Linked DNA regions of Homo sapiens. The protein of the gene in region 1 purifies or fractionates together with the protein of each later gene. This does not show direct contact. Each region holds a gene or a part of one and is shown on either strand. Other genes may lie near its edges. The genes, in order: CDK15, NDRG1, IL36G and SERPINA3.

Region 1 (7,032 bases):
GGTGCATGCCACCACGCCCAGCTAATTTTTATGTTTTTAGTAGAGACAGGGTTTCGCCATGTTGGCCAGTCTGGTCCCAAACTCCTGGCCTCAAGTGATCTGCCTACCTCAGCCTCTCAGAGTTCGATCGTATTTTGAATCAGGCCTTTCTACTTGGTTGGGGCTGCAGTGTTCCTCCAAAAAGAATCCTTGATTATATATTTCTGTTTATAATTATATTTCTGTGTCTTTTATGTGTACATGGTGCCCAGACACACGGTGGAGGGCAAGGGAGCTGAGTGATAGAATGAGGAGATTTTTCCCCTTCAACTTAGTAACAGGACAGTCAGTAAGAGTTTAGTATGGGGGTTACTTTTCCAGTTGCCATCAACTTTAGCAATTCCAGGAAAATTCTACTTAAAATCTAAGTCTAGCCATCTCCTTTTCTTTACTTTTTGTTTTTATCCCTTTGTTTTTCAGAAGGGAGGCTGCTGGAGAAACTCTATTTTTCTCTCCCACTTTTCCAGGCTGGGCAGGGTTCCTGAAGCTGAAGACCTGGCCTCCCAGATGCTAAAAGGCTTTCCCAGAGACCGCGTCTCCGCCCAGGAAGCACTTGTTCATGATTATTTCAGCGCCCTGCCATCTCAGCTGTACCAGCTTCCTGATGGTGAGCGAGGGAGTGTGTGCGTGTGCGTGAGTGCATGTGCGTGAGTGCGTGTGTGTGTAAGTCTTGGTGTCTTAAGTAGTTTGCCTCAGCACCGGAGAATCATAGCATTTACCCCCAGGAGTGAAGTTAGAGATCAGTTTGCCTGGGAGAAGCAAGATAGGACCTAATCTTGTCTGAGTTTTGCATGAGCTTCTCTCAAACTCTGAAGCACTGGTGGGGAGAGGTTACAAGGACCTCTTTGTAATGGTCCAGACATTTCACAGGTACACATTTACACTCAGAAATTGGATGAGATGGACGTTGTCTCTGAGTTGTTTGCCTTAGCTACCATCTGCCAGGAAGCCACACCAGTGTTTCTAACAAGACTCTTCTCCCTTTCTGCGGAGAGTAAGATGATAGGTGAAGCGGATATGTCCTGAGAGGGAGCTGGGCCTTTCTTGATTGGTAATAGCAAGCTGCAGAAGGCAGTGCCGGGGTGGGGTGCTGGGGGAAGGGAGGTCTCCTCCGAGGCTGCCCACCTCCTGTAAACACAAGTTACCTTGGAATCAGCCTTTGCTGCCTGGGCCTGAAGTCATCTTCCAAACCTGAAATCTGCTGAGGGATCATGTGGTTGGAACTCCCGTCATGTTTCTTGGACTGTGGCCAGGAAGGGCTACAGGAGGATGTGGGCAGTGGTCATGGGGGACTATCCTTAGGTGAGGTTTCTTTGAAAAAAAATCCACCATTCAACTAAAAATAGTTTTAGGAGCAAGGGACAAGTAGACAAGAAAAGCAAAGCTACCAGGAAGGAAAAACAGAAGAGAGAGAAGCAGCCAGGGTTGGTTTTAGAAGTCCTAAGCCAGAGAAAAGAAAGCTTAGGAGGGAGGGCCTAAGGGCTGGAACTGCGATGAGGACACTGGAAGGGGCGTGGGGGAGTGGCGATGGGGTGCAGTGAGATAAGGATGGGGACAGGGTGAGGAGCTACTGCCCAAGAGGTGTGGAAACAGCCTGGTCCGCCTTGCCAGAGTTTGCAGACGCAGCTCCTCTGTGTCTAGGACATCGTCCTGCAGCAGTCCAAAGCGCTTAGTTTGGGACTTGCTGAGGCATTCTGTTTTATGACTAAAGTGAGTCATTTAGGATCTCCAAAAATAACCATAATCATACAACTGGGGTTAATGTCTTACTTAACCCTGTAGAAAGAGTCAGTCATTAGTATTTATTAAATTGCCATTAAGTGTCAAGAACATATTGAGTGCTATAAAAAGTTGAGGAAAACAAGAGACTTGTCCTTGGCCTCCAGGTTCTTATGAAGTGGGAGGAAAAGAGGGTGAGGAAGAGGAAACGGGGCACCCTCGCACACATATCAGCACACATCATATCTAAACAGCAAAAAATCTGTGCATAATCAACTGCAGATGTGCAGAGACTATGTGTGTGTTGAAGGCAATTATTTGGAGGAACAAGAATTCAAATGAGATGGATTAGACTGGAGGTGAATCTAAAGTGGAATTTGGAAGGAGGAGAGAGGCATATGGGTGGAACAAAAGACATTGCAGGCAGATCCACAGTTCTCACTCCTTTCCTGGTACCTCTGCCCCCACTTCAGCCCCATTCCTCCCCGGCCACTCCCATCCCAATCCCCTCTTCCCAGTCCAAGCCCCTAGATTGTTCCTTTTCAGCTTTCTCCTGTCAGACTTGGGACTTATAACTCTATTACTTCATGCAAGTGTACACGCTTGGATGTACATACACACGCACACACACACACACTCCCTTCTCTCCACTTAAAGAAACTTTCCCCATTGGCCCTCCTTTAGGATCTGTTATTCCACATGCTGACAATTGCTGGGGATCTTCAGAGTTTTCTAGGCTCCAGCTTTTGCTTGACGCAAGATGATTAGGAAGAAACAATCACTGTCCAAACTGATGTGTTGTTAGAAACTTGGGTTTTGATTTTTCCTGGCTGACCCAAAAGCAAAGCCACCAACAGAGGGGCCGTGGTGCATGGGTATCTAAGGTTGTGTGTGTATGTGTGTATATGTGTGTGTGCGTATGTGTGTGTGTGTGTGTGAGAGAGAGACAGAGAGAACAATCTGTATTCCTTCCCTGTTCGCCCAGTCACAGAGCCCAAATCTACTTTGACACTTTTAGAAAAATGAAAAGATGGAATCTTGTAGGAGGCTGCCTGCACTAGCGGGGGAAACCAGGAGTGCTCACAGCAGGAGGGAAGTTGACTTTTCTTTATACATATAGGGGTTTTTCCATGCAGAGTTTAAATTATGCCTGATAAAAGGAGTTTCGTGGATGTTTCAGTTCTTTCAAATTCTCCTGGCTTCCTCCCAATTAAATGAGGTTTGTCAAAGCCACAGGGCTCTGCTGCTGCTGCCTCGGCGGACAAGCATTTCCTGCAGCGACATCTCGAATCCCCGAGGGAGAAGATGAAAGCGCCGGTGCCAAGAGACAGGGAAAGGCGGGGGCAAGATTGGGTGTGTGTGCTTCTGTGTGTGTGTGCTCGTGCACATGAGTGCACGAGCATGTGTGTGTGCTTGTGTATGTGTGTGACAGGGTGGTGGGTGTGCAGAAATATGTATATAGACAGATGGACAAGTAGATAGAAAAAGCAAAGCTACCAGGAAAGAAAAATAGAGGAAGAGACAGAAGCAGCCAGGGCTGGTTTGTGCACCTTCGTGACAGTGGCTCTCACCACCAGCACATTATCTACTAAGAGATGCGGTCCTTGGCCTGGCAGTGCCAGCCTGCTTTTTCATTGCCCCTGGCAATGAGCCTTTATTAACAGCCTCCTTTGCAGACAGAGCACACCAGTGGGTAATCACAGTTCCCAATCTGCAGGGACATAGAAACTCCATCCCTGAGGAGGGCTGCCCCAGGCATGAGAATTGTGCAAAAATCGGCATGCTCTTGTGAGTGATTTGTAAGGAGAGTTTCTCTGCCATAATTATGCAAGAAATTTTGCTCTCTGGTGGCATTTCAGTATAAAATTATTTAGGGGCTTATATTTATATCATTTTATTATTCTGATTTTATTCTGGTTGCAGGATAACAGAGTTGTCACTTTAAAATATATTCTGTTTCCCCTTTGATCTGGAAGATGCCAGCTCTTATTGTCTGCCCTCTAAAGAAGACAATTAAAGCATAAAGCCTGGGACTGGGAAATACGTGGAGAGTGGAAGGACAGCCTAAATCCCAGTGTAGGAGCGGCATAGAAATTCCACACAAAATGAAAGAATTGTTCCAGTCCATCTCTATTTTCATGACGCTGAGAAGTCCCGAACAATGCTTTCCCTAGGTTGTGGCAGTACGCTTAGAGCCAAAGGGCATTTATCAGGGGGTTATTTGCCATGAAAACCAGGAATTCCAGGATTAGTTTCCTTTTGGACAGCACCTGAAGTGGAAAAGTGTGAATATTAGAATGGCAAGCATGTGGGAACTTCTGCCAAGTTCTGACATTTTCCCTTATTGACTCGTGAACACCTGAAGAAACACTTGTTGAAGGAGAAATTATTGGTAGTCCCTCTCAAAACACAGCCAACAGCAAGCTAATTGCTTTTGCAGATGGCCAGGGAGTCGCTCTTCCCACTCAGACACCGGCTTATGGCCACACTTGTGGTCCTCGTGGCTGAGCCAGCAGGGCAGGACGTCAGCTGGAGCAGCTAGGACCTAAAATTAGGCCCTTGGCAACTCTCTAATCTTAGCTGCAGGTTCAGCTTCTTCATTTAATTCTCTTTGCCCTCAGCATGAACTTGGGCTCTGGGAAAGGAACACTGTTTAATGATTTGGGGGTGGGGGTAGTAGGAAATCATTAAGCTGCCCCTTCTTAAAACTGGCTCCGCTCTGTTCTTTCAGGAAACCTTCCAAATGTTACCCTTGGAAATTTAAGACTGATTTTGGAACCTAGCCATTTTGAACTACAGACACTGATCCAGAAAAGTATTTTTTATCTGAGGCAGTAAATGACACGTGATTTAAGAGTCTGGTCTTTAAGCCATGGTCCTTGATCGTCAGGACATCAAAGGCTGTCTCTCTTTCTCTCTCTCTCTCTGGGTTGGTCCCATTTTGCTTGCTAGCCAAGTCTCATACTTGAGTCTCCCATTCCTTCCTGGACTAAATCCCCTTCTCCTTTAAAACAGGTTTTAGCATCTTAGGGGGAGAAAATCTAAAAAGCTTGCAATTGTTTCACAAGTAATTTTGCAAAAATGCTGTACCACAGCCCCCATTGTTAGAGTATACTTATATACACATAGGGATGGAAGAAAGCATGGCATTTACCTCTACCTTTGATCACACCATCCCGATATCTATACTCCGAAAGTTCTTCAGCATGCCTCATTGCCCTGTTAAAATCTGAGTCGTGTTTTGTTTTGGTTCAATAAAATAACTTCAGGCCTTCTTTGAGTGTTATCTCCTTAATATATTGGAAGGTCCCTATGATATCACTTCCCAAAGGCCACTTTAGGCTGAATTCCTTTAACCTTTGTTTCCAAATACAAATTCTGTTTCTCCCACTTTTTAGTCATTTTGTTTTATTGTTCTCTTCTGAATCTGTTCCAATTATTTTGCTTATCTCTGAGAATATGGAGGCAGCATAGACTCAAATTTCTTGCATGGTGGGAGAATCATGTTCCATTCATTCATTGGAGGTTTACTGAGTGTCCATGAGGTGTGATATTAAAGGATACAAAAATGAATTAGTCATAGACCCTGTCCTCAAAGAGCTTACGGTCCTTTAGGAAATAAGACAAGTATATAAACAGCTGCAGATCAAGTATACAAATAAAGTGCTCTAAGTGTTTGAAGGAGGTGAGATTAACTCCAGCTGTGGGGATCCAGGATGATTTTGTGAGTGGGCCTTGAAAGATGATGGGTCTGGATGATTGGAGAGGAAGGGCATACGGGCAAAGGAATGTCGTGTTCCTCTCAATACCATCTAAGATCATTCTGAAGTTGTCTTCTTTTTAATCATAGTGGCTCAGTCTTAACTCATATACCATTGTAGTTTTTCTTACCATCGTATGCCTTTTTGCAACAATTTAAACATTCTTTAACATGTACTAATCAAGCTTAGTTTCACTCTGAATGCTTCCACGTAATTTCAAACCTATTCTGTTTATTGGTTTTTTTGTGTATTCTATTCAAAGTTGAACCAGAATATTTTGTCATTCTATGAGGCCAGGTTTCAGGGGCTGGGGATGTTGGAAAAGAGGGAGGGAAGATTCTCAGCCATCCTCTTGACTCTGTGCTACTTCTAGGAGTTTGTAACGTAACTCAGACCAATCTGTCCACCTTTTAAATCCTCCATTAATCAGCCCTTAAGAAGCGAATTTGGAGATGTCCTCCATAACACACTTCCTCACCTTCTATGCACAAAGTTGTTCTCCATCCATTTCAATATGTTAGAGGAGATACTGGGTTGAGACGTGGTTTATGGGGTTGCATAGCATTGTGTTGCTGGGAGAAGTCTGGGAAAACCAAGTCCCTCAGCCCTACCAAGCCCTTAAGTTGGTTAAATTTGTTACGTTCATGGCTGAGTCTCCAAGTAAAGATAAATAATTCAGAAAAGAGTTATTTATAAAGGATCTTAAAGATTACTTATTCCATACCTTCATTATATAGCTGAGTCACTGATGCCCAGGGAAGAATAATCGTACCTGCCTTTTATTGGACATCTATATGCTTTATATAAATTATCAATCTATGTACTAATTGGTGAGGCTGGAATTGTTATCCTCATATTACAGATTAGACAGCTGGAAGTCAGGTAGGCTAATTGCTTGAAGTCACACAGCTAGAAAGTTGTAGAGCCAAGATTTTACTTCAAATCTGACTCCTAAAAGCTACTCCTTTCCTACTATTCATTGTTCTTGCTAAAGATCACATAGGAACTTAGCTGCAAAATCAAGATTAGAACCAAGATCTTGATGCCCAGTTCTGTGCTCCTCCCACTCTCTCATGTACTGTGTTTATTTTAAAGCTTTTCTGGGAAAGATTCCACACATCTCCAGGTAGCGTGTTTAATATCTCACAATTAAGAGGGCTCAATTTATGTTGAATAGAGATTTACACCCCAGGACCAACTTCTTCCTCAATGCCATCTTACTTTAGTTTATTTTCTTTTCTTTTCTTTTCTTGTAATAATATATGCAATCAGCCTTGGGTTTTAAGATTTTTTTTTTTTTTTGAGATGGACTTTTGCTCTTGTCGCCCAGGCTGGAGCGCAATGGCATGATCTTGGCTCACTGCAATCTCCATGTCCCAGGTTCAAGAAATTCTCCCGCCTCAGCCTCCCGAGTAGCTGGGATTACCTGCCTGTGCCACCACGCCTGGCTAATTTTTGTATTTTTAGTGAGACAGGGTTTCACCATGTTGGCCAGGCTGGTCTCAAACTCCTG
Region 2 (7,217 bases), on another chromosome or scaffold:
AGGAAGAGGAGATGAGGTGGGCCTTTGGGTACAGATGCTTGTTTTGGAAAGTTTAGGGAGGAAGGGGTGAGAGGAACTGGGCTGCAGTACAGGAATGGGGGACTTGGGAATCAGAGGGGATTGGTTAGGGTGGGTCATTGATTGCAGTGAATGTTTACTTGTTGATTGGGCTGCAGTACAGGAGTGGGGGGCTTGGAATTAAGAGGGGATTGGTTTAGGGTGGGTCATTGATTGCAGTGAATATTTACTTGTTGATTAGTTTGATCCAGAAGAAAGGGAGAGATGGATGCTGGAGGAGAGAGGGGGTCCCGAGGGAGCCCAGGACTGGAGGTGGGAAGACACTTTTACGGACACTTTTTCATTTTGACAGACAGAAAAGATGATGGTCTGCAGCAGTAGACCCATAAATTGTGATTGAAAGGTCTGATGGTTTCTCTCACTCGTTTCCTCCATGCACAGAGAGGTGGAGTAATTTGCCCCAGGTACTACAGCTCATAAGTGGTGAAGTTGGAGCTGGGGGCCACAGACCACCGGGTTCTTCTCCATGAATCCCTGCTGCATCTTGGTCTCTCCCAACCCCGAGTACCCATGAGTTTTAAGAAAGACAGTTGGGAACAGGTGATTCCTATGGTCATTTTTGGAACATTTGGTTAGAATATTCTAGTATAAAATCTAAGTTGTTGTTAAGTAGAAATTTCCAGTGGACATTAGTCCAGAAAATCCAATCTCATCCTGTGACGGATTTGCAGCGCGTGTGCATTTACTAAGCAAATCTGATTCTACTGCTGACCAGCGAGAAAGAGGAATAATGTAAACAGTCAGTGCAATTGCACCCACATTCAGCTCCGTGAGCTTCTGCCACCTCAGCTGGCTGCGGTGGGGGATGTGGAGGTGCATGCAGCTCCCAGGTCCCAGTGAGGGGCCTCTGTATAGGGTGGGCGTCCTCTATGCTTTATGTGCATCCAGGCCTGTACTAAAGACAGTCTTTCTCCTGCAGCGTGACACTTAGCTAAGAAAACTACTTCATCTGGTGCTCAGCGGAAGAAAACATCCTTTTCAACAGGGAAGGAAAATTGGCTGTGTTGGGCTGAGGGAGGGGAGTGTGGAATCCAAATGGTGTCTTCCTCAGGCCTTCTCCAAGGTGATGTGGACTCTGATTTTAGAATGCCATCACTTGGAAAATTGTGTTCCATTGCTCAAATTCTTGCCTCCCTTCTCTGCTCTTTTCTCTTCACTCCACTCTCCTTCCTCTGTCTTCTGACCTATTCAATGCTAATGGTCTTCCAGAAGGTTAGGCTTCCCACACAAGCCCAGCCTCCTGCCAGGCAACCTCCTCGGGGTTTCAAGCTGCAAATCTGGGCTGCTCTTCGCATTCTGTCCTGAGGACCTCCTCAAAGAGACAGGCAAGGGCCTCCCCTGGCAAAATGCCCTTCTAATTCCATGCACTAGTTCCATTTGTTACTGAAGAAGTGGGCCGCCTTCCCTGCGCCTTTGAACTTGACATTCCTTATCTTGACACTCCGCACTTTTGAACTTGACACTCTTGTATCTTTAGCAGGTAAAAAACCAAAGGTGCTCACTCAATAAATCGCCGCAATGGGGAGCCTATGGGAAAATGGGTATGTGTAAGCTGGCTAAAGGATAACAGGCACACAGGCTGCTTGATCTGGGAGGGTCTTTAGACAGCAGGATGGCTCCCAGAGATGCACTTTTGTTGTTGCTGTTGTTCATGATCATGTCCCCAGGGTCTAGAATGGTGCCTGGGCATAGTAGGTCCTTAATATAGTTAGGGAATGAATGAGTTCATCTCAACCACGCTGTATGGATGGAGAAACTGCGTCTTGGGGCTGTACCATGCTATGCACCTGTAGAAAATGTTTTTGCCTTTTCAGTCCTTTCCCAGTGGCGGAGTACAGGACCCAGCTCATAAGAGCAGCTCAATTCTGTCATTTGTGGAATGACAGAATAAATAAGTTTCAGGGCCTAGGGAGGCAAGGCTCCTGCCTTAGCCTCCCAAGTAGCTGGAACTACAGCTGCATGCCACTAAGCCCACCTGATTTTTTATTTTCTTGTAGAGATGATGTCTCATTATGTTGCTCAGACTTTTCTGGAACTCCTGGGCTCAAGCAATCCTCCCACCTCTGCCTCTGAAGTAGCTGGGACTACAGGTACTTGCCACCAGGCCTGGCTAGCTTTCATCTTTTTTGTAGAGATGGGACATCACTATGTTGTGAAGGCTGGTCTCAAACTCCTGGACTCAAGAGAGGCTTCTGCATTGGCCTCCCAAAGTGCTGGGATTACAGGTGTAAGCCACTCTACCTGGACACAACATTTTATTTGAAATAAGAAAAATTTTCCCTCACTGGGAATGCTGCAGTTGAACTAGTTCAAATCCATAAAGAATGGAAGACTGCCCAGTGGTCATTCATTCACTTATTAATTCTAGATGTTAAATTTTCTAGGGTGGGGGAATGTGCTCCTACATTCAAGGCATTCTTGAATGTAGCCAAACTTTGTAGTTTAGCCAAACTTCATAGCTAATAGCCAAACTTTGTAGTTTAGCCAAACTCTTCTAGCAGCAAAACCCATGACACTGGAACTCTGTTCTTCACACTGGTCATTTGTAATAGAATAACAGAGCTTTAGCACTAGATAGGTTCTGAAAGATCATTGAATCTAATCCTCTCCCTTTGCCAGTGAGAATTCTGAAGCCCAGATTTGTTGATTTGTGATCGATAGTGTCAAAGACAGGCCTGAAACACAGATGTCCTGGGTCCTAGAGGTGCTGTTTGCCCCTCTCCATATTTCTTTTGTTCCAGAAAACCCTTCTCCAAAACTGGCCCTAATAATCAGAGGGGAAAGCCATGGCCCCTGCCTTGGGGACAGCATGGGTTGGCACAGAAAAGAGGTTTACAATTCAGCAGGAAGTGTTGTGCGTGCGCGCGTGTGTGTCTGTGGAGGCGCAGGGAGGGTCACCTGAGCTTGCCCTGGGTCTGGTCCTGGGCTCAGTGGCAAATTCAACGCTGGGCAGGTGGCCTGAGGACAATGACGGTGCCAGCTGTGAGTCAGACTTCCTTTATTCATAAAATCATGTTCCTCCATGCAGTGCTTCTCAACCTGGCTGCACGTCAGGAGCCACCTGGGTAGCTTTGTAAAAACCCCAATGCCCAGTTGGTTTGCACCCCCTGAGATTCTGATTAAACTGTTCTGGAGTCCATCTCTCTCTTTTTATTATCTATCTATTTATTTATTTTTTAATTTGGCGGCTCCTCTGGGACTTCTCATATGCAGTAGGGGTTGAGAATTGCTGGTTTCTTTGGCCAGATGGGAACATGCAGGCCAATAGTTACGCACAAACAGAGCAGCAGAGCAGGACGGTGCTAAGGTTGGAAAGGGTGAGTCATGAAAGTTCAGGAAATCAGAATAGGAAGGGGTGAGAATCCTCTCATCTGGGCTTGTGGGGCAGGAGAGAAGAGCCCAGTGGGCAAGGTCCAGTGAGTGTGCTTAGAACTGGGAAGATGAGGGGAAGGGTAAGCGCTGGGCGGCGGTGGGCAAGATGGACGAGATTAAACGGGAGCGAGGATTTCAGCGAGAGCTTTGGCGACACGGAAGGCTGAGAATCGGAGGGAGCCTGTCGGGCGAAAGCGAAGGCGGCTGCTGGGCAGGCAGCCGAATCCGGCTGGAGAGCCGAGCTGGTGAGACCTACAGGAAGTGAAGGGAGTCGCTCAGGGCGTGGCGCAACGAGACTCTTAGAAGAAACTCTGAGGCAGAGATGGGGGGCCTCCGCCCATACGGAGACACAAGGAAGTCCACATGCACACGCACGAGCGCGCACATGAACACGCACAAGCACACAAACGCCTCCTCCGGGCAGGGCACACGCGCCCGCTGCACAGGCCGAGGCCCTGGACTCGGAGGGGACTGCAGAGCCGACCCACAACCCGGGCCCCGATGCCCCTCCCGGCCGCGCCCCTACGACTGCTTGCGCAACAGGCGGCGGCTCCAGTGGGCGCCCGCCGCGCGCTGCCGGAGCCCAGCCCAGCCCGGCGCGCCCGGGAGGAGGGAGCAGGGAGCGGGGAAGGGGTGTGTCCCGGCTGCGTGCTGGGACTGCGAGGGTCTGGGAGGGGCGAGGCGCGGGGGCGGGGCCGCGGCGCCTATAAAGTCGCCCTCCGCCCGGACGTAAACAAACCTCGCCTGGCTCCCAGCTGGTGCTGAAGCTCGTCAGTTCACCATCCGCCCTCGGCTTCCGCGGGGCGCTGGGCCGCCAGCCTCGGCACCGTCCTTTCCTTTCTCCCTCGCGTTAGGTAAGCCCGCGCCCTCTTCTCCCAGGCGCGACGCGGAGCAGAAAGGGGCCGCCCGTGCGGTGCCGCTGGAGCGCCAGGACCGCCCTTTGTAGCCCCGCGTACTCCAGGAGTAAGCGCCCCGGAGCTGCAAGTGCGCGGTCACCCCGGGGCGCGGGCGCGAGGGGGCTTTGGGTGCAGACACCGCTGAAGTGGGGGGTTCAATTACGGAAAGGGAGGAAAAAAAGACAGGGTCCCATTCATCTCCCCCCTAGCTGGGGATTGGGGTTCTGGAGGTCGGGAAGGGGGCGATGAGACGGTCCGAAAAAATACCAGGATAGCGTTTCCTGGCGTCGTCTCCGAATCCCAGCTGGCGCCGCTGGCAGGGGTGCGCGCTGGACGTGGGTGCAGAAGGGACTAGGTGAGTGTGTGTGTGTGTGTGTGTGTGTGTGTGTGTGTGTGTCTGTGTCTGGGAACGGAGAGATTGCGCGCGAGTGTGTAGATGAGGGGTTGGTAGAGGTGAGTGGCGCTGGCAAGGAGGCTGGAGAGGGGGGCGTGGGTGTGTCTGGCTTGCAGACTGGGTCGGGAACGGGTGTGGATCCGAGAGGCTGGTGGCGCTTCAGTCCCGTAGCACACACAGGGCGGTGTGCATGTGTGAGTGTAAGCGTGTGTGTGGGGGGAGGGTCCAGGGTGTGTCACAGTGCAACACGCGAGCCGGAGCAAGTGTCTGCGAGCGCCACTGGGCAGGGTGCGCCCCCGGAGGAACCCGGGATTGGCGCATCGGCGGCGTGGGAGAAGTGACCTGGGCGAGAGGGGTCTCGCGGACATTTGGCGGCCCCTTGAGCTGGCTGGAGCTAGGAGTGGCGTCATTTTCGCCTCCGCCCACCCTCCCCCGCTTTCCTCCCCTCCCCTGCCTCTGGTGCTGGCCGCTCCTGCCCTCCACGGGGGAAAACAGCTGGAATTACTTCGACGTTCCTGGGGGATCCGCCGCGGTCTCTGATTCAGCCTCGGGAGGAGATTTCGGGCTGGGCTTGGGGAATGCGGCTGGTTCTGGGGGAAACACGCTGTCACGCCTCTGTCAAATTAGTAGCTGGAGCTGGGATTTAGTGGGTCGGTTCCTTACCCACCCCTCCCCCATATCCCCCGCCTGTTGTCCCTGCTGTCCCTGGGGGTCCTGAACAGCACGCCTCTGTGGCTTGGAAGTGGGAGATGCCTGGCAGTGGGTGGGGGAGGCAGGGCCCTTGGTTATCTTATGCCCATCCAAGAACACCCCTTCCTCACGGACGCTGGGGGCACTTCAGTTTGTTTGGTTTCTTTAAGCTACTGGGAAATATCTAATATTCAGAAGTCAGCCAGTGGCCAGGCAGGAGGGCGGTAGACATCCTTATAATACCCATCAGCTGCACGGGACCTTCTCCTAAGCTGCCTCAAAAGAACATATCTAAATACAAACCCCCTGTTCTTGCTGCAGAAATGTAGTTTCAAGGCGAATTTTTCAGTCTAGACTCTTCCTGTTGAGAAATTCTGGCGTTCTTATTGAGTTTCACAAATGTGATTGAAATAAGCAAGGTACAGAGGGGGCAAACCCCAGCGCCTTTCTTGGAAGGGCTGCCTTCTGGTGGGGAAGACACACGGCTGGAGACGCAGACCGGTTCTGTGTGGTGTGTGTGGCGGCAGAGCCAGCCCCAGGCTGGGGTGGCACAGTGTCGGGGATGAAGGAAGGTGTAAGGGAGAGAGAGGGTTTTGGTGTGGATGGAAAACTGGGTGTTCCCCTGACCTGTGACTTCTTAGCTTTGTGGGACCGTGTCTCCCACTGCATCTGGGCAAGGAGGAGGATTTGCCTGCCCTGCCCTGTAACCTGGCCCCTGGCCCAGCGCCTGGCAGGTGGGAGGAGTTGAAATATGCACATGGGATGAAGTGGATGGCTCTGGGTCTTCTGCCCCATTCTCCTGTGAACCAGCAGGTTGAGTTTCGGGCGAGGTAATAGACTGTGCATGGGTGGAGGTGTTGGCTTTTGCTTTTGAGGGATCCTGGAGTGTCTGTTTGGGTCTCTTGTGAGGAAGTTCTTTTGGAGCAACAAAGTTTGATCATTTGGAATGGAATAAAAAACTCACACAGGACCTACCTAGTCCAACTTCTTTCCATTTTACAGATGGAAAATGAGGCACAGGGATGGGGAGGGATGTGCCCAGGCCGAACTGAGCTGGAGCTCAGCTTTGTGAGAGGCTCCTGGGTGGGACTGAAGGCAGTGGAAAGGGTTCCTGGCAGGATTTTGCCTGCCTGCTATGGAGGGGCGAAAGGAAATTGCATCTTCATTGAATTTCTGGTGAGGAAACTTTTGAGGCCAAAGGGGCAGAGCGGAATGATTTTTTTTAAGTGTAAATCAGGTGTTCTTGAGAGATTAGCAAAGCCAGCCTGAAGGGCAGGGGCTTAGAGGCTGCAGCCCCCTGAGTTGGCCTTTGACTGAATGGGGCTGCCCCCCCCCCATGACAGAAGACAGATCTCAACTGAGCTGAGGGCCCCCCTGGGTTACGTTGAAATCCGCTGGCCTGAACTTGCCTCCTCATGGACCTGAAAGAAAGATAGCATTGTGTTTTTCGGGTGGCCCAAAGCTGCAGTTCTTCCTTGGGACCCAACCCCAGAGAATCCCATTCCAGATGTGACTCAGAGGCCTTGTCCTGGGAGAGAAAGCGTGATGACTCAGCATCTGAGACTCAAGCAGGGTTCAGGTTTGACTCAGCCTGGAAGGAAGGCCAGGGAGGGACACGACATCTCTCTCCCTCCAGAGCAGCCACTGTCTCCCTCCATCTGCCTTCATCCTCGCAAGAACGTTGCCTGGATCGTATTGCTCCATTGAATGGATGAGGCAACTGAGGCCAGGAGAGTTTCAGGATTTGCCTGTTGCCATATGGCTCAGGTGGGAGAGCCAGACTTTGA
Region 3 (7,013 bases), about 89 Mb from region 1:
CCCAGAACACTTCATTGTTGTTTTTAGGGGAAGGGGCATATGTCACTAATAGAATGTCTCCAAAGCTGGATCGATGTGGGGAAAACACCTTTCCCTTCTAGTTTTGAGAGAGTTCCTCTTGGCTCCCAGGAGGAGGGATTCTCTGACTTTGACACACATGGCCACCTTGGCAGAAAAGCCTTGTGGTATGGAAAATAAATTCATTTTTATGTCCTCTTCTCCCTTTCCATCTTTCAGCATAGATTTAACTCCTTTAAGCCAGACATCTGTTGGGACCTGGCCCTCAATCATTGGTTACCAGTATGTCAGGCACTCTGGACTTTCCAGTGATGCCACTGAGATGGCACCTGTCAAAAGAGCAGTGGTTCTGTTTCTAGATCGTGGATCTTCAGATAAATTCTACCATTTTCATTTCACTTCCTGAAAGTCAGGGTTGGCTTGTGAAAAGTTTAAACCACATGCTAAATGTGAAATGTCAACTCTCACTCTAAACTCTCCCTGTTCAGAGCATCAGATGAAGACTTCATTGAGTTTTATAGTGGCTTTCTGATTTTTGGTAGTCCTTTGAACAAGGGAGTTTGAAGTTTGCTGCATACTCTTAACAATTGTCTGCCCATATCCTGCCTGAAATACCATGAATGTTTATGGAAAGTATCTTTAATAAAGCTGGATGCAGTTTGGCTTGGAAAAAAAAAAAGCAAAACAAGGACCTTAACTACTGACAGCCAGAATAAAAAGAAAAGTGTATTGCATGCACATAACTTAAAAGAGGCTGGGAATAAATATGCTTAGGAAGATGAGACTATTTCTTTTTTAATTCTAAAATTAGGTATTCAACCAAACACTTCTAAAAGGAAAGGCTTTTTAAATATTTTTCTTAGCTACTCACTTTTAGCTGCAATGTGGGCTGTTCTCCAACCTTCTCACAATACAAACACATTTCTGGATTCTGGATTCCCAAATAAATGGGATCCCCTCTGCCTTGCTCAAGAGCCTCTGGATACTTGCATGTGATAACAGCAACAGTGACTGTAAAGATAAGAGGAGAGATGGTATCAGTTTCCTTTTGAAGTCAGAAAGATTATTTGATTTAGCAGGGCAGTATCCTCAAGTGGATCTGGAAGAGAGCTGAAGAGTGTAATCCCAACTAGACCCACCAAATGGCCAACCCCCATATTCATTCATTCATTCATTCATTCATACCATGTGCCAATCACTGCCCTAGTAAATGAGCAAACACAGAGAGCTAAGCAGACAACAGAGTATGCTCTTGAGATTCTCACGCCTCTGCTTGAGCACATGGAGATGGGGAGCTCCTACATCAAGCAGCCCCTCTGATTCTTGGAGAGCTTGGTCCCTTTTGCAAGTTTTTCCCAATGTGATGCTGAAACCTGCCTTTCTGTGGTATTCACCCATTTAGTCATTTTAGGACACCCTGAAGTCATGCAGAACAAGCTACTAGTCTTCCATAAGACAGGGCTTCAGATGACTGACAGCAGCTTTCCTATTCCCTTGGAGGCTCCTCCACCATCTCTGGCTTCTTCATCTTAGTGGAACCCAAAGTTCTCCCTGACTTCTCTTCCCAATTAGGTGTGAAATTCTCCCCACTCCTGGTGGGCCCCATTGTAAAGTCACACTTTTACAAAAGGCTGATGCCAGCTTCCCAGCCACAGCAGTGCAAACAGTGGGGAAGGCACAGGGTGACCACTCACCTGGGGTCACACTGTCACTTCGTGGAACTGCCACAAGGTTCTGACCCTGAAGGGTCCACACTTGCTGATTCAAATCATTAATAGTCCCAGTAATAGGTTTACACACTGATTTTGGGATAGAGAAAAAAATGAAGAAATATTATAATCAAGGCTGCTTTACTAGACCCAGGAGAAAAGTATCTAACCCAGGCCATTTTGTAAGGAAGGTGTGGGGTTTGCATCCCCAAACTGACAGCACTCACATCACCCATCAGCCTAGCCTTTCTTTCTAGTGAAGTTGTGAGCTCTGGTGAGGAAGGCAAGGGCTACCAAGGGAAGTCACTGGTTTAAGAGGGCAAACTATCAAGACAGAGGGCAATGAGCAGTCTCACAGAACCTGTGTGCCAAGGCCCAGCTACCCTCTTTTGTGCCTACTCTGTGCTTGGCCCCGGTGCTGGGGACTGGAGCTGGATCAGTGACTAAGCAATAGCTCCCACCCTCCAGAAGCCCAGGGCCCAGTGGTAGGTGGGCAGCACCAGGTGGGAAGGGCAGTGTACAGAGAGGAGCAGAGAAGGCTGGGGCTTCCACAGGAGATAGCGTGAGTGCAGAGGGCCTAAGCCTCCAGAGCCCCATCCCAACAGCATTTGATTCACTTGATTGATAGACGGCCCTTCCTCCACCATCAGCGTCTCCTGGAGTGCCTCTCATAGTGTGGTTGTCTCAGCACCTGTGAAAGCAGACATAGAACAGATGAACCACAAGAGATGTTTCCAAGACCTTCCAGGACACTAGCTCCACAGGCCCTCATTCTAGACAGGGAGCTGGGAAACCTGGCCTGACACGAAGCTCTGGGCAGAAGTTCTGAGCCACATCTGGGACGAAACTTGAAGGAAGCATCAGCAAAGGGAGAACAGGTAGAATTTTCCTCCACCTGGAGATCCAGATAGTATGGTAGTGTCTCCCCTAGGAGTTCGAAGGCCAGGCATAAAATTTGACCTTAAATAACCCACAGGCACCTGATGCCCTGACTCCTCTTCTCTGAAGCCTCCACCCCTTCATCGGCATTGTTTTTGCCTAGGAGCAGGGGAGGGTCCCATGCCAGGGCCACTCTGCCAGGATCCCAGCAACTCCCCAGTAAGAAGCAGCCACACATAGGACAAAGCACAGAGCCAGCCTGATGTGGCCCTTCCCTTCATTAAGCCCAAAGCACAGATGAGAGGAAAGGCTCCAGAGGGAGGGAGAAGAGGTTTTCCAGCTATTGACTATACCTGGCAAGAAAGGGTCTTTATCTACAGTCCAGGGGACTGAATCGTGGCTCCAGCAGCTTCCAAGGTCAGTGATGGGTTCTAATGGAGCCTGGATCATTTATCTGGATGAGCAGAGAAGGAGGCTCCAGCTTCCTGGGTGGGGCATGAGAAACGTATGACATGAAAGAAAACCAGCTCCTCCTACCAGAAGATCCTGTGAGGCTCGGAGGAAGAAATCACAGAATTAGCACAAGTATCACCTGTCCGGGCTCGCTGAGAAATAAGTGTTGAGCCAATCCGCACAAAATCAACCACAAGGAAATGAGGTTGATGACAGATCCTAGGTTTCTCATAAAGGGGAAACTAAGGGAATTTCCCAGAGTTCAGCTCTCCTGTCATGTCATTCTAGAGCTAGAACTGGAAATGCCAGGCACTCTCATGTCAGGGACTCCATCTCCTGGGACTGGGAGCCTTGCCCTCTGCAGTCAGGCTAAAGGCATCCTGTAAGAGCAAAATTAGCCACACGTCTCAGGCAAGGTCCCTGTGGCATTTCTCAACTACCCCACCTAAGGCCACACCTGAATGGAAAGCCAGGCAGTAGAGCTCCCCTACCTAACACTCTTTCAGCTCCATCCACATGGGGAGCCACAGGGACTATGCAGACTGGTCTTTTAACTGAGGCAATCCTAGTTTCAGGTACCCTCAAAATGCAGTGGACTCCAGAACTGCCTAAGGAAGTAAAGAGGTGGGCAGCGATTTCTCCCAAATCTGAGCCCCAGATGCCAGCTTATCCCCCACCCTCTGCCCTAGGTTCCTGATCAGTGGTAATAGTTATTTTTATATCTTGTTTATACACCCCATCCTATCTGCTGTAGCCAAGCCTAAAAATTTACTGAGGTATAAGTTAACTACTAGAGTGAAGTGAGTTTTAGGAGACAGACTTGAAGCACTAACAGCTTCAGGTTTACCCATCTATAAGGAAGAAAAGCACAAAGAATGAGACAGAACCTTCCAGATAAGCTCATCCATGAGCCCCTCTTCCCAGCCCTGCAAAGAGTCTCCTGACTCAACGTCTCTTACTTTTCACCCTAATCTCCTTTCTGGCCTTGGAAGAACACAGTCCTTTCCTGCCATGGCCCCAATTCTATCACTTTTGGCTTCCAGTGTTTCTGTGACCCTAGGAAAGAGTGTGGTAATGCCAGGTGCACTTTTGTTCAAAGTCAACCTGAGCCAGTGCCACCTCACTTGAGTCTCCATTGCCCTGTTAAAAATCCCCTCCATTACACATCAGTCAACATAACTCCTTTCTTGGGATGTTCACCACAAAACAGCATCTAAAATTCCCATCATTTGACCCCCCAAATCCCTTAAGCCTGAATTTCCAACTGGGATCCCTCTGAAAGCAGAATCCATGCTAGGAATTGCAAACAAAGGGAATTGAATAAAAGGAACTAGATACACGTGTGTTGGAAAGCCAAAGAAGATTAAGGGATTGCTGTGGTATCTCAGATAGTAACAACTACAGGAAGGAAACAAAAGGGAACAAAAGAACCTAGGTCTCAAAGGAGCGCTTTTGTAGGACTTATCCCCAGATATGAGTCGGAGGTGAGGCGTTCTCTGCCAAATTGATGCTCAGACCTCTGAAAAGAGAGTACAGTCTGGTCAATGCTTGGAGCATGAAGGTGGAGGGGAGGGGTCAAGAAGAGGATGCTCAGAGGACTCACAGGACACAGCTCTAACAGCTGAATTTTCTTTGGTTCAAAAGCCTGTGGGTACAGCTAGAACTTCCCACGCCCAGATGAAGGTTGCAAAAACTATAAAAGAGGGTGACATGTGTCCTCTTCAGCCTCCGCCCTCATTCCACTTGGTCCTGACCCTTCAATAGATTCCAAGCACTCAGAGAATCCAGCCCTTCCTAGAATTCCCAGCACTCAGCATCCATCCTGAAGTCCCTAGTTTAACTGTTAGTGTGAATAAGTATCAGAGAAATTGGAGGGAGTAGGAGTGATGATGATAAAAGGGGAGAACTGAATCACTGGGGTTGATCAGTAAAGAGCAGAGATCACATCTACTGAAGAAATGGCCCCGAACGTTTATCTTAAAGTGGAAGGGATGGATGTTATAATTACATGATACCCTGGCTGTACTTGAGAAAACCATCAATATTGATTCTGGTTATAAAAAGTAAAGAACATAGCGTTGCTATATTTTATTTATTACCATTGATTGTTTTATTTATTATCAACGATTTATTATCATGGAGAACAATGACAATGATGCTTATCATTAAGTGTGGCTTGAATTTAATTACCATAAGTACTGACAAGGCCAAATTCCCTAGATATGAAAATGATTTTAAGAAAACACTTAGTCCAGATTCTAATTTCCAAGCTCTATGACACTGTCAATCTACATTCATTTGGTAATAAGCCCTGCTACTAGTTTGTTCACTTAACATGCTCATTACCTTATTAAGTTGAGGGAATATCAATGAAATGCAGGTAGGGTAAGAGAACTTGATTACTGACCACCACTACAATCTCTAGAATCTCTACAACACCTTTTTCATGAAACCAGGCACACAATCATAACAAAGCAGAGGGAGCCATGGAGCAGTAAAGGTTATTCAGCCCCCACCATTGCCAACCATAAAAAAAATCACCTTAGTAGTAAAATTAAACTTAGAATCTATAACTCCGGACTCCAAATGCAGAGCTCTCTGCTGGAGTCATAGGTCCTCCTTGGGGCCCCCAAAGAGGACCAAAGCCATGTGGCCTATTACCTATCAAGGGCTATCTACAAGCAGGCTGGCAACCTGGCCTGAAGATTGCCACTGGAAAGAAGTTGGCATTCATCTCGCTTAAATTGGTGGGGCAACATGGTGTGTACCATGAACCACAGAGACCAGTGTGGGGCCATTTGTACTCTAGTGGACTTGGGAAAATGCCAAGGAAGCTCTTGGCATAGGCTCTGTGGTAAAGCCTTTACCCAACGTAGATGGAATGATGTGCATGGACATGGCCGAAAGCCTCTGCTCCTCCACATAGCCCAAGCCCATTATCAAAGACTTGCTTCCTATGAGCTGATCCATTACATCTTCCTGAAGCTGGTTTCTATGAAACCCCAGACTTTGGCACATAGGCCAACACGCTATTTAAATGAAGGACAGAGTAACAAAAATAACCCCAAAGCTACACATCAAAATGGCAGTAATAAATAGAAACATTAAAAGAGTTAAGACTAAAGAACCAAACCATATAGGACTATTGTAAAGGCATATTTCTCTAAATTTAAAACAGTTATTGGTTAAATTGTCATTTATGTGCAACAACAACAAAGAACTAAAGCAATAAAAAGCCTTAATTAGACAGCACATAGTGCAACTCCTGAGAAAGGGGTCCAGGTTAAATGCCTAGAGTTTGAAATTCCTAGACAAAGAGCCAAATGACAGAGAACCCTTAGCCTTCTTTGCCCCAAATCACACAAAGTGCAAAATCCATATAAAAAAAAAAAGATGATAAATTGAATATCACCCAAATTTTAGAATTTTGGACAAAACACATCATGAAATGAATTTAAAAAGACAGACTACCCAAGATAAAATATTTGTAACACATCTAACAAATAATTAATATCCAAAGTTTATAAATAATTCTTACTAAGCAGCAGGAAAAGTGCAAATAATTCCATAGAAAAATGAGCAATTGACGTAAAAAGTATTTCACTGAGTAGAAAATATAAATGTCCAATAAATATAAGTAATTATAGTAAACCACACTGGTAATTAGCAAGATGCAAATCAAAGCAATACTGAGATTCAGTTTCCACCCATTAGGAAGGCACAGATTAAAAAGATAGTAGGCAATAGTGTGAGACAATAGATTCACTCACCACATGGATGGCCGTGTGAATCATTGCAGACTTTTTGGAAAGCAATTTTGTAGAGGCTATTAAAAATGATAATGTGTTTACGCTTGGCCCCATATGTGTACTTATAAGAGTCTATCAATTTAAGTTATTTTCAGCTTCGAAACCTGAAAAATCCTATTCAAGTGGCTAAAACAATAAAAATATT
Region 4 (7,000 bases), on another chromosome or scaffold:
AACCACTCCAGGGCGCGTAGGAGCTAGAGCTCCCTCCTTGCAGGGGTGCTGCTAGACTAGGCCAGGAAGTCCCTCTGTCTGGATGCACCTGGGGCTCCTGCCCTGCACATGTGGGAGGAGCACATTCCAGCCAGGGGCCTTGGTGTCTGGAGGTGGCCAGGTGGGGCTGGGGCCATCTTCACAGGGCAAGATAATCCCCAAGGAGCCTGGCCACTTCCAAGATTCTATGATTCTACTCTGCTATCATCTTTAATTATTTTAAAAAATATGTCACTGACACATAACAAATGAGGGCAGAAATGGCATTGTTCCCATCTGGGGAAGAGCCTCAAGGGTGGGCAGTATACAAAACATGACCCTTTGCCAGATTCTAACTGGTCCAGTGCCCAATCCCATTGATAGAAACTCAACCAATGCAAACCTCAGCCTGCAAGCTCCGAAGGGGCAGAGTGCAAGCCGGTAGCTTTTGCCTCCTGGAGCCCACAGTCCAGATGGGGACAAAAAAAGAGATAGGGACACAAAGAGTGATCACTGAGCCAGAGGGTGGAAAGGTGCTTAGGAGACATGAGCTGCTTGGAGGCAGAGTCCTGCTTGGAAGCTGTTGGTTGATTCCTGGGCAAGCCACTTCCCCTCCTGGGCCTGGGTTTTCATCTGTAAATGAAGGCGTGGATCCAGATCTCCCTCTAAGACTACTCCACGCCTCACGTGCCATTTGTTCTCTGAGTTTCCCATGTTCTCGCCTCCTACTACCTAGCCCTATGCTAGGACTCTCCCCTCCAGGACACAGTAGCCAGCCTAGCTTTCCCCTCCCCACCTGCCTCTAACAATGGGAAACAGGCAGGTGGTAAACAGGTGGGCAGTGGAGGTGGCCCCATGTCTCCAGCCTCCCCTGGAAGCTCCCACCCCCCTCATTGTTCAGTGCTCTGGTCCTCCTGGAGTGGAGACCTGCAGGGCCCCTCCCCTTCCTCTGTTGACCTCTCCTCACTCTCCAGGTGCCAGTTTTGCTCCCTGCCTCAGCCTGGTTTACATACAGTGTATGTGACGGGGCTTGGTCACTGCTGGGGCAGCCCTGTGGAAGGTGGAGGGGACCGAGCATGCATGAGCTTCAGGCTGAGACAGTCCCAGCTCAGAACCCTGGAGTGCTTGTTCCCTCCCTTTCTGCTCTTCCTCTTCCATTGCACCCACTGGACCCAAGAGCATGCAAGGATTGACTCACCCAGTGATGCTAGAACTATGTATTCAGCTGAAAGTAAGGGGGTGGGGGCATCCAACCAGGGGCAGAAGATGGGAATTCAAGAAAGGAAGGTTTCCCCTAGAAAACGGTTTTCGTCTTTTCTCTTAAATCCAGATAGAATAAGAAGCGAAGGCCGTTACAGCAGAGAGAAAGTTGAGTCAAGCAGAGATCAGATACTAAAGACACTAGACTAACCAGACATTCGGGCCCTCAGTTGAACAGCTGAGGATGTCAGAAGATGTTAAGGAGGCAAAATTGGAAAACTTGGTGGCTGGCAGACAGAAATGGGGGGAGATGGGAGCAGATGTGAGAAGATTTAAAGGCTTGTAGAGCTTGGGTGGTGATTTCATCCACCAAACCTATCTCTCTCCCCATTCTGGCATACAAGGCAGCAGTCAGGGTCCCCAGAGGCAGCCCATCTTTCTGGCAGGGACCCATGCTGGAGATCTGGCCAGCTGAAAGGCCCCAAAGGAGCTCGGTGCCCTGGGTAATATGGGAAGGTGCTCCATGGCACTGCCCTCACATGGAGGCCACAGAAGCCCCTGAATGGCTGCTGCAATTGGTAACGGGGACACCTGTTCAACTGAAATATCTCCTACCCTGAGATGGGTCCTTTCTCCAAGGGATCTTTACAATTACATTTGTCCCCAGTCATTCCATGTTGGGAGGCTGCAGGGACCAGAGAAGCTGAGATGGTCTTTGGGGAGGGGAAAGGAAAGATGGACAGTTATTTTGGTCCTAGAAAGCCCAAAGGTGGGGAAGTGTCAAGAAGGAAGATGAGGGCACAAGAGAATGTAGGGCCACCCAGAAGCTGGCTCTCATTGCAATTACAGAAAGAAAAACCAAAATAAAGAAAGAAAGGAAAGAAGCTCCCATTTATTGAGCAGCTACTCTCACCAGCCATTCACATGCAATACCTCGTTTAATTCTCGCAGCGGCTCTGAAAGGTGGATGGTGGTATTGCCATTTGTTAGGTAGGAGACATGCCGTCCAGAAAAGCAAATAATTAAACATTCAAAGTTGACCTGGGCCCATTTGAAAATTCCTTTTGCTCCCTCATTTTAACCCCTAAAGTAAAGCCGTTTGTGACTTTATGAGCTTTTACCAAGCATCTCCTAAAACCAAGAATGGAGGTGAAAGATTGTGGAGCCCACAACCTAGAGAAAGGATTGACAATTTTTTTTCCATAAAGGGCCTAGTAGTATGTATTTTAGGCTGTGTGGTCCACATGAGGGCAGATTCTTCTTTTTGACTTCCTCCTCTGCATCTTCTTCATCTTCTCTTTCCTCTTCATTTTTTTTACAACCTTTGAAAAATATAAGCACCATTCTTAGCTTTAGGTACACACAAAAATAAGCTATGGCTGTATTGGCTTACAGGCTATAGTTTCCTGACCCCTGTTCTAGGGGAGGAAAATAATTGTACCCAACTAAATGCGTGCGAATCATGGGCCTATGTCATGATTCCCAAAGAATGAGTTTCATGGAATTTTCAACATTTTAAATATTTTACTCCATTCTTCCCTTGCTTGCATAGTTTCTGATGAGAAGTCTGCTGTCATTTTCATCCTTATTCCTTTTTAGATAAGGTGGAGTTTTCCTCCCTCTGCCTCTACCTCTACCTCTTTCAAGATTTTCTCTTTCTCTTTACTATGGTAAATAGGCCTTTAGTGAGAGGAGTTATGTCAGCCTGGCTAGGAGTCAGGCTGCATTTCAGGTTTGTGATAGCTAGAGGTACCAGAGGCAGTTTCATGGAATTTTACCTTTGCAACACTGAGAGCCTAGGCAGCCTCAGAGTCAGAACACCCACAGTTGAATCCTCAGCCTGACAGACACTGAATCCAGGGCAAATCTTAGCTGAATATTCATGGTCTGTAGAGGTGGACATGAGCTAGATATGAGCTAAGGACCATAGCCAGCTCATGGCTTTTGTGATGTCCAACACCGCTATCCTCTAAGATGTCACAAGTGTCCCTAGGCTTTTATTCCCATGGTCTCTCCTGGCTCTGAGTTCTATCTTCCATTAAGGTTCTTCCTGTTCCTCCCCTCATTCACACTGATTGGCATCTCTTCTGTCTGCCCTCACCAACTCACATACAGAACCCAGTCTCTTTCCTCTTATTTCCACCCAAAGCCCTCCCACAAGCCACTGTTATATGTTCACATCCCTGTAATACCAGTGAGTAATAATTGCTAATGAGACATTTTTCCTTTTATGGAACAAAGGCTGTCCCATTTCTCCTCAGGCACCAGCCTCCCACATGTTGTCATGCCTCTTTCCCCCACTTTCCCTAAACCTTCTTTCTCTCTTGCACTCCTTATTCCCTGGTTCCTATTGATTTCTCATTTAGCACAAGGAACTAGGTCTTTCTTTTGTGGCCCTTTTCCCAATCCAAGCCTGCTGGGCTCTCCCTCACCCCCAATAACTTTTACTCTTGCCAAGCTACTTCTCTAAACCAAAGCAGGGTCCCTCCTATGAGGGACTCTGGGCACTTCCACTGCTGCGGAAGCAGGGTCGAGCAGGGCGACCCTTGCACTCACACCTTCTCCAACTGCTTGCTCCACCTTCAGCCAAATGGGAGATGCCCTTTGACCCCCAAGATACTCATCAGTCAAGGTTCTACTTGAGCAAGAAAAAGTGGGTAATGGTGCCCATGATGAGTTTGCATCACCTGACTATACCTTACTTCCGGGACGAGGAGCTGTCCTGCACCGTGGTGGAGCTGAAGTACACAGGCAATGCCAGCGCACTCTTCATCCTCCCTGATCAAGACAAGATGGAGGAAGTGGAAGCCATGCTGCTCCCAGAGACCCTGAAGCGGTGGAGAGACTCTCTGGAGTTCAGGTGATTCTTCCTGGCCCCCAAAGACCCCACATCTCTCCACGTCAAGGTCTCACCAATGTCCAGGGACAAGGGCATGGTGGTGGGAGAACTCATACAGGGACAGGTGGAATTTACACTTACTTTGCCCTATGCTGCCTACATGGCTTTGGGCTTGATTTTTCTTTTTCTTCTTTAAGACAATGACATCAGACAGGACAAGGGGCTGAGGCTTCCTCTGACTCCAGCATGTTCTAAGTCATGAGAAATCTTCTGCACAGTCCCAAACACTCATGCATGGTTTCTCCTGGTCTCAATCTCTTGAAGGGAGAGAGAAACAGAAGGAATTGTGATCAGTTGAGGGCTGCAGTGAGATGGACTCTGAGAATCAGTTCTGCACTGGTGAACCACTGTATTTATTCATTCTCTCAGCATTTGCTGCATGATTAATTGAGCACCTACTATGTGTCAGACACTAATTTGCACCCTGAGAGTAAATCAGCAAATAAAACACAAGATTCCCTGCCCTCCTGGAGCTTAATTTGTAATTGGAGAGGGGACAGGCAATAAATAAATATAACAAATAAGTTACGTGATATATTAGAAGGTGAGAAATTGAGTAAGGGGATAGAAATTGAGTAGAGGAGGATGAAAGGATCAGGAAAACTGGAACTCGTGTTAGTTTGTGATTTTAGATAGAGTAGCCATTAGGTGATGTTTGAGCATCCATATAACAGAGGGGAGGGGTGGAGTCATGTTGGTATATTAGGGAAAAGCATTCCTGGCAGAGGGAACAGTCAGTGCAAGGCCTCTGAGGTGGAAGTGAGCTTGATGTGGTCAAAGAAGAGTCAGGCCAGAGCAGCTGGGCTTCCACTTCCTCCATCTTGTCTTGATCAGGGAGGATGAAGAGTGCGCTGGCATTGCCTGTGTACTTCAGCTCCACCACGGTGCAGGAGCAGAGAGAGTGAGGAGAGAGTTGAGAGAGGTCAGGAGTCCCCAAAGGGGTGGAGCAGCTTAGGTAGGGCCACGTAGACCCCTAGAAAACCTTGCCCTTCCTCCTGTGTGTGAAATGGAGAGCCATCAGGAGGTTTGGAGGAGTGCTGCGATCCGAGTGTTGTTTTAAAAGACTAATCCTGGCTGCTGAGAGGAGAATAACTGTAGAGCAGGTATGGAGTCAGTGACACCCGCAGGAACCAGGCACAGACATGAGGTGGGAGCCCACTGTGGCTGGGATCCAGGAGGGAGCCATGCATGTGAGAAGTCATTGAGTTCTGGATAAATCTGAGGGTAGAGGAACTTGCTGGGACACACGGAATTGAGCTGACCGATTTCATGGGGACACAGTGAGGAGGAGCAGTAGTTCCGGGCCCAGACCCTGCAGTGGGCCCAGGGAGTGCATGTGGGCAGCTGTGTGGGGTAGAGAGGAAGGAGCACCAGCCTTGGGTTCAGACCGTGGTGGCTGGTGTGACCTGGAGCAGGTCGCTGCTCTTCTCTGGAGCTCAGCTACCTCCTGAAGAGAAAGGAATGTCCTTTCCCCACCACCCCTGTTTTCACTGGGTGATTGTGAGAATCCGGTGAGGTATTGTATGTTGAAGCCATAATAAACCACTAAGGGCAAGGGAGCTGCTTCAACACTAACCTGAGGCTGCAACCCCTGCCCCAACCACTGTCCAGAAGGCCGGACACCTCTCGGGATTGCCTGACCCTCAGCCCCTCCTCACTCTAGATCCCAGGAGACCCCAGAACGTGGGGGTCCTACCCAACCCATCCGTTTACTCCCAGACTCCTTCCTCCTTTAGCACCTAATAGCCACCAGGGAGCAGGGGCTCAGCAGATAATTTTGAGTGGAAAGAATTCTCCAAACACTTTTGATTTACAAAATGCTGAGGAAACATGTGTCCACACACTCCTGGCCCACAGAGAATGCTCAATAGATACTTGTTGAATGAAGGATGGAATGAACGGACAAACACATGAATGAATGAATAAAAATAGAAATAGGACACCTTCCTCCTTCAGGGGACTCAGAGTTTAATGGAAGACACAGCCTCCTGTATAATTGTAAGACCAGGCAGACAGTGACAGGCATCTTAAGAGGGCTATAAACTAAGGGAGGGGGAGTTTGCAGGTGGCAGGTGTGACCTGGGCCTCTAGGAGCTTGCTACCTGCTCTATGCCAGCCCACACCTGGCTTGAGGGACAGTGCCCACTGGTGAGGCAAGATGGGAACCTCCAATTGATTGTTTCAGGATCCCCAAAGCTCTTCTAACACAATCAGACTCTTCAGAGGCCCCCAGGCCCTTTTTGACCTGCCTCTGGCTCCTGGCCCACCTCATCCCTCACTACCCTCCTCCCTGAAACACTGAGATCACCCACCGCCCCGTGGAGCAACTCCTCCTGCTCCCACCTTCTTCCAGGTTCTTCCACCTGCCTCCTGCCCACCTCTTCACCTAGCTAGCTCCTTTCCTGCCTTTGGGACTCAGCCTCAACACCACCTCCTACAGGAAGCCCTCCTGGTGCCCCCGTGAAGCAGGCTGCCATGCAGCCACTGCAGCTGGCCCAGCCCAGGCTCTCAACACACTCAGGGGTCCCTGCTGGTGTGAAGGTGCTTCAACTGCATTGCAAGCTGCAGGGAAAGGGCAGGGCCAGGCTCGAGCAGGGCCACAACTCCAGGCTTGGTGTGCTGCCTGGAGACTTTCACACTTGCAGATCTGAATGAATAATTAATGAATAAGAAGAGTAAAGACAGGGGTTAAGAAATTGAGGAACAGATTATTTATTTTCCAATCAGAAGGGGGTGACTGTAGAGGAAACCAGGGAAGACCATGCTGCGAGGTGGGAGGCAGGTAGGTACTGATCAGCAGAGGTTCAGATACTTTTTTTTTCTCGTTTTCTAGAGAGATAGGTGAGCTCTACCTGCCAAAGTTTTCCATCTCGAGGGACTATA

What was found.
Region 2: the proteins of CDK15 (region 1) and NDRG1 purify together in Homo sapiens (affinity purification with mass spectrometry; 2 studies listed by BioGRID and IntAct, with this or other methods). This does not show direct contact.
Region 3: the proteins of CDK15 (region 1) and IL36G purify together in Homo sapiens (affinity purification with mass spectrometry; 2 studies listed by BioGRID and IntAct, with this or other methods). This does not show direct contact.
Region 4: the proteins of CDK15 (region 1) and SERPINA3 purify together in Homo sapiens (affinity purification with mass spectrometry; 2 studies listed by BioGRID and IntAct, with this or other methods). This does not show direct contact.

What each region holds. Positions count from the first base shown.
Region 1 is NC_000002.12:201,879,522-201,886,553, forward strand, and holds part of CDK15 (cyclin-dependent kinase 15), read left to right. Parts: intron 1-506; coding exon 507-646; intron 647-2,743; coding exon of another isoform or gene 2,744-2,784; exon of another isoform or gene 2,785-3,170; intron 3,171-7,032. UniProt on the Homo sapiens protein: Serine/threonine-protein kinase that acts like an antiapoptotic protein that counters TRAIL/TNFSF10-induced apoptosis by inducing phosphorylation of BIRC5 at 'Thr-34'.
Region 2 is NC_000008.11:133,294,221-133,301,437, reverse strand, and holds the start of NDRG1 (protein NDRG1), read left to right. Parts: upstream 1-4,185; 5' UTR 4,186-4,304; exon of another isoform or gene 4,305-4,701; intron 4,702-4,747; exon of another isoform or gene 4,748-4,799; intron 4,800-7,217. UniProt on the Homo sapiens protein: Stress-responsive protein involved in hormone responses, cell growth, and differentiation. Acts as a tumor suppressor in many cell types. Necessary but not sufficient for p53/TP53-mediated caspase activation and apoptosis.
Region 3 is NC_000002.12:112,974,025-112,981,037, reverse strand, and holds the start of IL36G (interleukin-36 gamma), read right to left. Parts: upstream 3,033-7,013; 5' UTR 2,960-3,032; intron 2,419-2,959; 5' UTR 2,400-2,418; coding exon 2,345-2,399; intron 1,818-2,344; coding exon 1,713-1,817; intron 1,030-1,712; coding exon 890-1,029; intron 72-889; exon of another isoform or gene 1-71. UniProt on the Homo sapiens protein: Cytokine that binds to and signals through the IL1RL2/IL-36R receptor which in turn activates NF-kappa-B and MAPK signaling pathways in target cells.
Region 4 is NC_000014.9:94,615,391-94,622,390, forward strand, and holds part of SERPINA3 (alpha-1-antichymotrypsin precursor), read left to right. Parts: intron 1-3,804; coding exon 3,805-4,078; intron 4,079-6,950; coding exon 6,951-7,000. UniProt on the Homo sapiens protein: Although its physiological function is unclear, it can inhibit neutrophil cathepsin G and mast cell chymase, both of which can convert angiotensin-1 to the active angiotensin-2.